2 linked regions of the Homo sapiens genome follow. The protein of the gene in region 2 purifies or fractionates together with the protein of the main gene of each other region. This does not show direct contact. Each region holds a gene or a part of one and is shown on either strand. Other genes may lie near its edges. The genes, in order: SMARCAD1 and ZNF337.

The links.
Region 1: the proteins of ZNF337 (region 2) and SMARCAD1 purify together in Homo sapiens (co-immunoprecipitation; one large-scale study listed by IntAct). This does not show direct contact.

Annotation. Positions count from the first base shown.
Region 1 is NC_000004.12:94,277,135-94,280,958, forward strand, and holds part of SMARCAD1 (SWI/SNF-related matrix-associated actin-dependent regulator of chromatin subfamily A containing DEAD/H box 1), read left to right. Parts: coding exon 1-25; intron 26-1,287; coding exon 1,288-1,383; intron 1,384-1,481; coding exon 1,482-1,599; exon of another isoform or gene 1,600-1,788; coding exon of another isoform or gene 1,789-1,794; coding exon 1,795-1,916; intron 1,917-3,457; coding exon 3,458-3,646; intron 3,647-3,824. UniProt on the Homo sapiens protein: DNA helicase that possesses intrinsic ATP-dependent nucleosome-remodeling activity and is both required for DNA repair and heterochromatin organization.
Region 2 is NC_000020.11:25,683,062-25,686,885, forward strand, and holds part of ZNF337 (zinc finger protein 337), read right to left. Parts: exon of another isoform or gene 3,406-3,824; 5' UTR 3,357-3,405; coding exon 3,330-3,356; intron 3,062-3,329; coding exon 2,935-3,061; intron 2,602-2,934; coding exon 2,506-2,601; intron 1-2,505. UniProt on the Homo sapiens protein: May be involved in transcriptional regulation.

The sequences.
Region 1 (3,824 bases), on a different chromosome or scaffold from region 2:
ACGAAGAATGTTTTCCTCTAAGACAGTAAGCATAAATGCATATTTTCTCCCAAATATGTTATTTGTGTTTTATCTGGGCCATTCTTCTGTTAGGTCTCTTTTGTTGTTTTCATAGTGCATATGCTCTATGAAGTAACTTTAAGTAGGTGATAACTCTATATTTGGATTGGTTTGGAAACCAGCCAAAATATAATGGGAAAGAAAATAGCAATTTCCCTAATCAATGGCCAGAAGTCTTGGTTAATATCCTAATTTTCTGAAGGATGACGATTTTAAATTGATGAAGAGCTCAGATATATAGTATGTGCGGAAAGTTTGATCATTACATCATCTGTATCAAAATTGGCTACGTAAATTAGTAACATTTCTTTATGGGTAAACTATAAAACTAGACAAAGCTAGAATATCCAGAAAATGCCTATGCTGAGAAATATATTCTGAAATAAAAGTTCATAAAACCAAAGTCACAACTAAAAGCGACAGTAAAGAAATCCTCTTCACAAGAAAAGTTTTGTTACTTCTTTATTGTTTAGGAAAAGTATAGTCTTCAAGAACTCCCAGTTTTTTCAATACCGCAGTGTTTACACTGATTCTTGGCTCTCTTCCACATCACTAATCTTTTGCAAGAATTTTCTGTGATACTCGTCCACTGCAAATTAACTGCCTTTTAAACATTTACTAATTTGAATTCCCTCCCACTTAATGTACAGTGTTTTAAATGGCCTAGCAGATTTTATGAACCATTTTCTATCTTCAGTTCATAATATATGGAGGACTCCTTCACATCCTAGAATAAAATTCTACTTCTTAATTCTCCAGAGTCACCAGTTCTGACTAAGCACTATTCCCCATTTTTAGACCAAGTGATTTGCATCAGTCTGCACTAGCTTCCTTTTGGGGCCATTTTCCACAAAGAAATAAAGGATTTTCTACCCCCCACGCTCCTCCTTACCCACACTTAGACACATTTTTCAATGAGAGTTATCTAGGTAATCGATACATGACTCATCAGTTGATGACTTCTGAACACCCATCTGGTACAGTTCAAATTGATTACTTCAGTAGAGAACATGATTACGTATCATAAAACTTCAAAATACATATGGAGCTTCAAGAAGTACATGGCAGCCCAGAATTCAGATGTGAAGTGCCATCTAGAATGAATCAAGTTTCTGCAGAAAATAACTCAGACTCTAATGAGGGAGATTTTTATGTTGTGTAATAATACTGTTATTGCAATAATTTAAGTGAATAATTCCTAAAAGGATATGTTTTTATTTTGCTCAGAAATCAGCAGATGAGCAAAGCATATATGAAAAGGAGAGAATAGCACATGCAAAACAAATTATAAAGCCATTTATTCTCAGAAGAGTAAAAGAAGAGGTAATGCATATCTACATGTTTTTTATTTTTATTGTTTTTAAAACTTAGGTTTTTCTCTTTACTAGAATGATTATCTTAAACTGTTTTTTCTGTCTCAGGTTCTCAAGCAGTTACCCCCCAAGAAAGATCGAATTGAGTTGTGTGCAATGTCGGAGAAGCAGGAGCAACTCTATTTGGGTCTTTTCAACAGATTGAAAAAATCTATCAATAACTTGGGTATAATCTGATTTTTACTCTTTTATGTGAAAAAGAATCTTGTACTGGGGATGCATTTTGTTTAGTCATATAATGGGATTTGTGCATTTTAAAAAATTATCTGGAATTTGAGGAAATAATTTTAAAACTTAGTTGATATATTTCAACAGTTATCCGCTTGGTTTTATTTTTTACTGTGTTCTCTTTGAGTCACAGAAAAAAACACAGAAATGTGCAATGTCATGATGCAGTTGAGGAAAATGGCCAATCATCCTTTATTACATCGCCAATATTACACAGCTGAAAAACTCAAGGAAATGTCTCAGCTTATGCTAAAGGTAAGGATTTCATATTATGTTAACACTAAGCTTTAATAAGAGGTTAAGTTGTTAGGCTATAAGATTGGTGAACCCAATGGGCATACTAAACCTTTAACTACATATTTAAGAAAAACTTTTTTTTTTCAGACCAGGTCTGGTTCTGTTGCCAAGGCAGGCAGTCTGGGCTCACTGCAACTTCTGCCTCCTAGGCTTAAGCCATCCTCCTGCGTTGGCCTGCTGAATAGCTGGGACTACAGGCACGCACCACCATGCCCGGCTAATTTTTTTGTACGGATGGGGTTTTGCCATGTTGCCCAGGCTGGTCTTGAACTCCTGAGCTCAAGCGATTCGCCCGCCTTGGCCTCCCAAAGTGCTGGAATTACAGGCATCAGTCACTGCACTGAAACACGAAAAACACATTTTAGACTAAGTTCAAAATGATCTGGGGGACATAAAAACAAAGAAGGACTGATAACCTACATTATAAGTCAGCAAACTATGGCCTTACGGCAGTGACTATTTTTATAAATAAGGTTTTACTATAACACAGTCATGCCTGTTTTTGTTTTCTGGGACTGCTTTCTCACTACAGGGGCAGAGTTGAGTACTTGCCTTACAGGTCATTTTGCCTACAAAGCCTAAAATATGATCTGGCCCTTTACAGGAACAGTTTGCTAACTCCTAGTCTAGACTTCCATAATGCACTTCTTTTTCATTTTATTTCTTTATAATTTTAGCAATTACTCTTTATTTTTGCCTCTTTCTCCTTTAACATTTTAACCTTATTTATCCTTACTGATCTTTGGTTGAAAGCAACCCATTTTCTTCCTTTTCTTTACTTTTTTTTTTGAGATAGACTTTTGCTCTTGTCGCCCAGGCTGGAGTGCGATGGCATGATCTCTGCTCACTGCACCCTCCGCCTCCCAGGTTCAAGTGATTGTCCTGCCTCAGCATCCTGAGTAGCTGGGATTACAGGCACCTACCACTACGCCCAGCTAATTTTTGTATTTTTAGTAGAGATGGGGTTTCACCACGTTGGCCAGGCTGGTCTCGAACTCCTGACCTTAGGTGATTTACCCACCTCGGCTTCCCAAAGTGCTGGGATTATAGGCGTGAGCCACTGCACCTGACCAACCCATTTCTTTTTAAATTTTTTTTTATTATTTTAAACTTATGGAGAATTTCAAACATTTATAAAAGTAGAATTGCATAATGAAACTGCCCATATGTTACTTCACCCCTTTGAAAGTTACCATTTGATAATAACACCACCCTTGTTTCATCTATACCCCAGACTTCTCCCCAGGGTTATTTTGAACCAAGTTCTAGATGTTATTTCATCTGTAAATATTTTAGTATGTTATCTCTCAAACAGTAAGGACTTCTCCCCCTTTATTATACCTAAAAGATTAATACTAATTTTCCTTGATAAGTCTGTTACACTAAAAGGTTCTATGATTTAGATATTTTATCAGGTATAAACAGTTTTATTAAACTTTTCTCATCATATTATTAATTATTTTTATTTTGAAGTATACTGTGTTTTGTTTTGTTTTAAGGAACCTACACATTGTGAGGCTAACCCTGACCTGATCTTTGAAGATATGGAAGTTATGACAGACTTCGAACTACATGTACTTTGTAAACAGTACCGACACATTAATAACTTTCAGTTAGACATGGACTTGATTTTAGATTCTGGAAAATTTCGAGTTTTAGGATGCATCTTGTCTGAATTGAAACAGAAGGTATTAAAAAAGAATGGCGTTTCTTTTGTATTTTCTCAATTACTTTAACTTCTTAAAGCAATTCTGGCACACTGACTTGCTTGAATTAGCCTATGTCTGTTCTGCATTCTTCCAGAACTTAGTGTTTTGAACATTTTCTTGACGTATTTTCTTGATTACCTCCTTTCCTCTGTTGAAC
Region 2 (3,824 bases):
TTGTCATAAGCAGAAAACTTAACACCACTTTTCAGCAGTCTCCTGTGGTCCCACTGTGAGGAGTGAGGAAAGCCAGTAAAACAGCATGAAAAGAGAAGAGAGGAACACAGGGCCTAACTGTGAACTAAAACTGCTCCAAGAGAGAACAAGTCCACCCTAGAGGTAAGAATCATCATCATCATCATCATCATCATCATCATCATCATCATGAGTCCTGATGAACCACTGCGGTGACTACAGGGACTTAAGAGGGTGCACAATTCTAGACCACAGCCCCACTCAGGCAGTACATCTGGGGGAAATGGGGGAAGGAGGAAGGTGAAGTGACCTCTGGCAACAGTAGTACTGCTTAAAACATTAAACGACAAGGAAAAAAAGCTATGGGAATTGAAGAAGGAGAATAACGGACAGAGGTTTTAAGAAGCTAAAATAGAACTTAAACAAATTTACAAGAAAAAAAAAAACCCCATCAAAAAATGGGCAAAGGATATGAACAGACACTCCTCAAAAGAAGACATTTATGCAGCCAACAAACTTAGAAAAAATGCTCATCATCACTGGCCATCAGAGAAATGCAAATCAAAACCACAATGAGATACCATCTCATACCAGTTAGAATGGCAATCATTAAAAAGGAAACAACAGGTGCTGGAGAGGATGTGGAGAAATAGGAACACTTTTACACTGTTGGTGGGACTGTAAACTAGTTCAACCATTGTGGAAGTCAGTGTGGCGATTCCTCAGGGATCTAGAACTAGAAATACCATTTGACTCAGCCATCCCATTACCAGGTATATACCCAAAGGAATATAAATCATGCTGCTATAAAGACACATGCACACGTATGTTTATTGCAGCACTATACACAATAGCAAAGACTTGGAACCAACCCAAATGTCCAACAATGATAGACTGGATTAAGAAAATGTGGCACATATACACCATGGAATACTATGCAGCCGTAAAAAATGATGGGTTCATGTCCTTTACAGGGACATGGATGAAGTTGGAAACCATCATTCTCAGCAAACTATCTCAAGGACAAATAACCAAACACCGCATGTTCTCACTCATAGATGGGAATTGAACAATGAGAACACATGGACACAGGAAGGGGAACATCACACTCTGGGGACTGTTGTGGGGTGGGGGGAGGGGGGAGGGATAGCACTAGGAGATATACCTAATGCTAAATGACGAGTTAATGGGTGCAGCACACCAGCATGGCACATGTATACATATGTAACTAACCTGCACATTGTGCACATGTACCCTAAAACTTAAAGTATAATAATAATACAAATAAATAAAAAATATTAAAAAAAATTAAAAAAAGAGAAATGCAAATCAAAACCACAATGAGATACCATCTCACGCCAGTTAGAATGGCGATCATTAAAAAGTCAGGAAACAACAGATGCTTGAGAGGATGTGGAGAAATAGGAATGCTTTTCCTCTGTTGGTGGGAGTGTAAATTAGTTCAACCATTGTGGAAGACAGTGTGGCGATTCCTCAAGGATCTAGAACTAGAAATACCATTTGACCCGGCAATGCCATTACTGGGTATATACCCGAAGGATTATAAATCATTCTACTATAAAGACACATGCAGAGGTATGTTTACTGCAGCACTTTTCACAATAGCAAAGTCTTGGAACCAACCCAAATGCCCATCAATGATAGACTGGATAAAGAAAATGTGGCACATATATACCATAGAATACTATGTGGCCATAAAAAAGGATGAGTTCATGTCCTTTGCAGGATCATGGATGAAACTGGAAACCATCATTCTCAGCAGAGTAACACAAGAAGAGAAAAATCAAACACTATATGTTCTCACTCATAAGTGGGAGTTGAACCATGAAAACACATGGACACAGGGAGGGGAACATCACACACTGGGGCATGTTGGGGGGTAGGGGGCAGGGGAGAGGATAGCATTAGGAGAAACACCTAATGTAAATGACGAGTTGATGGATGTAGCAAACCAACATGGCACATGTATACCTATGTAACAAACCTGCATGTTGTGCACATATACCCCAGAACTTAAATTAAAAAAAAAAAAGAAAATCAGTATATAGAAGAATGAGATGCAAATTGTATCAAAAAATTTATATTTACTTACACAGAAAAATAATTAAAAAACAAAACAAAACAAAACAAAAAGAAGCTAAAATAGGAATACCTGGACAGTATCAGGAAGGGGCAATAGACTTAGGCTTGCAGTCGGGCAGTCACGAGGAAAGTCACAAATGAGGAGATTGAGTGGGAGAAAGAAGTCTAGCAAGTAGGGGGAAAGGAGGCTTCCTGGGAGAAGGAGTCCAGGGACCTCAGGAGAACCTCTCACTCAGCAAGGACTGGAAGGAAGGCAGGGCCAGGTGGTCTGAAGAGCAGCCAAGGAGGCCAGAACAGCTTCCAGGTCCCCTGGCCTCAGAGAAGCCTCCTCCCTCCTGAAAGGCGGAGTGCCTTGTGCTCTGTCTGCCCTGTCTATCCCCTCACCTGCACAGGGGCCTGGCCGGCGTCTTCTCTCTTCTCCCCAGGGCACTTCCCCTTGCTCTAGCCGCCTGATGAGTTCTGGTTTAGAATGGAGAATTCCTGCTCACAGGGAAAAAAACCATGAGGTGACTCCTGGTTGTAGGCTCCACGGGCCATTTGCTGGAGCCACCCAGGGCAGGAAGGGAGGGAGAATCAGAGGGGGAAGGCTCAGGAGGACCCTGTCTACCATGCTCAGAGTACAAACCCCCAGGGGGAGCCCCAGTGTGGGGAAAGGCCTGCAGGTGCCCAGTGGCAGTCAGTATGAAACTTTACCAAAGCCAGACCTTCCTCAGGGGAATAGAGAAAACAACATTCTTGTCTCTGAACCTAACCCTATGGCAACATCAGAGGCACCACAGGCCAAATGTTAGGCTCGAGGGAAGCCACGCTTACCTAGTGAGACCAGGTGGCTGTAGTTCTCCAGTGTCACCTCCCTGTACAGGGCCCTCTGAGCAGGGCTCAGCAGCCTCCATTCCTTCTGGGTGAAATCCACAGTGACATCCCCAAATGCCAAGAAAGCCTGTAACACAAAACCCAGGCATGCTCACCAGGGACAGTGTTGCACTCACGCAGTTGGAGGATTCCAGGTTCTGCCATCTGTACACAGATCACTACTTGATGAGTGACACCCACAGGCCAGTCACCTGCTGGAGGACGCCAGGAAAGACAGATCACTCCCCAGGAGCGGTGCTGGCCTTGGTCCTGTGCTAATAATGTAACTGCTAGGGCCAGTGAAGGAAATGGGCCCATCCTGTGACAGCAAGAACGACAGTTCTGGGAAGTCTCACCTGTCTCCTGGCTCCCTGAGGTCCCATGACTGTCTTCCTGCTCTCCACGGAGAAGGGAAGCTTGCAGATGGCCAATCTGTGGGAGGAGAGAAGTCAGAGGGTGGCTGGGTGCAGCTGCCCTCCCCATGTGTGACAGTTGGTGTGATTCCAATACCAACTGGGGATCTGGGGAGGGCGCACCTGCACAATTCCCCTGTGGGGATCTGGCCAAAAGGTCTAGGGAGCCAGGCTCCCTGCAAATCCAGGACAAGCTCATCTGGGAGTGAAGTGTGCCCCAGGAGCTGGGTGACGTTTGTTGCTTACATCACTGAGGGGCTAAAAGGATGAGGAACACCTGCAGATGAGGTCTTGCATTTAAGGTTAGGGCTCAGAGTTCCAGGTGTTCTTTGCACTGGACAGAATACACAAGAGCTGTCTGCCTCTTCTAGCCTCTGTCTCCCCGGGTTTGAAGTCAGGATAACCACAGGTGCAGACAAACTTGAGAAGGCCACAGGC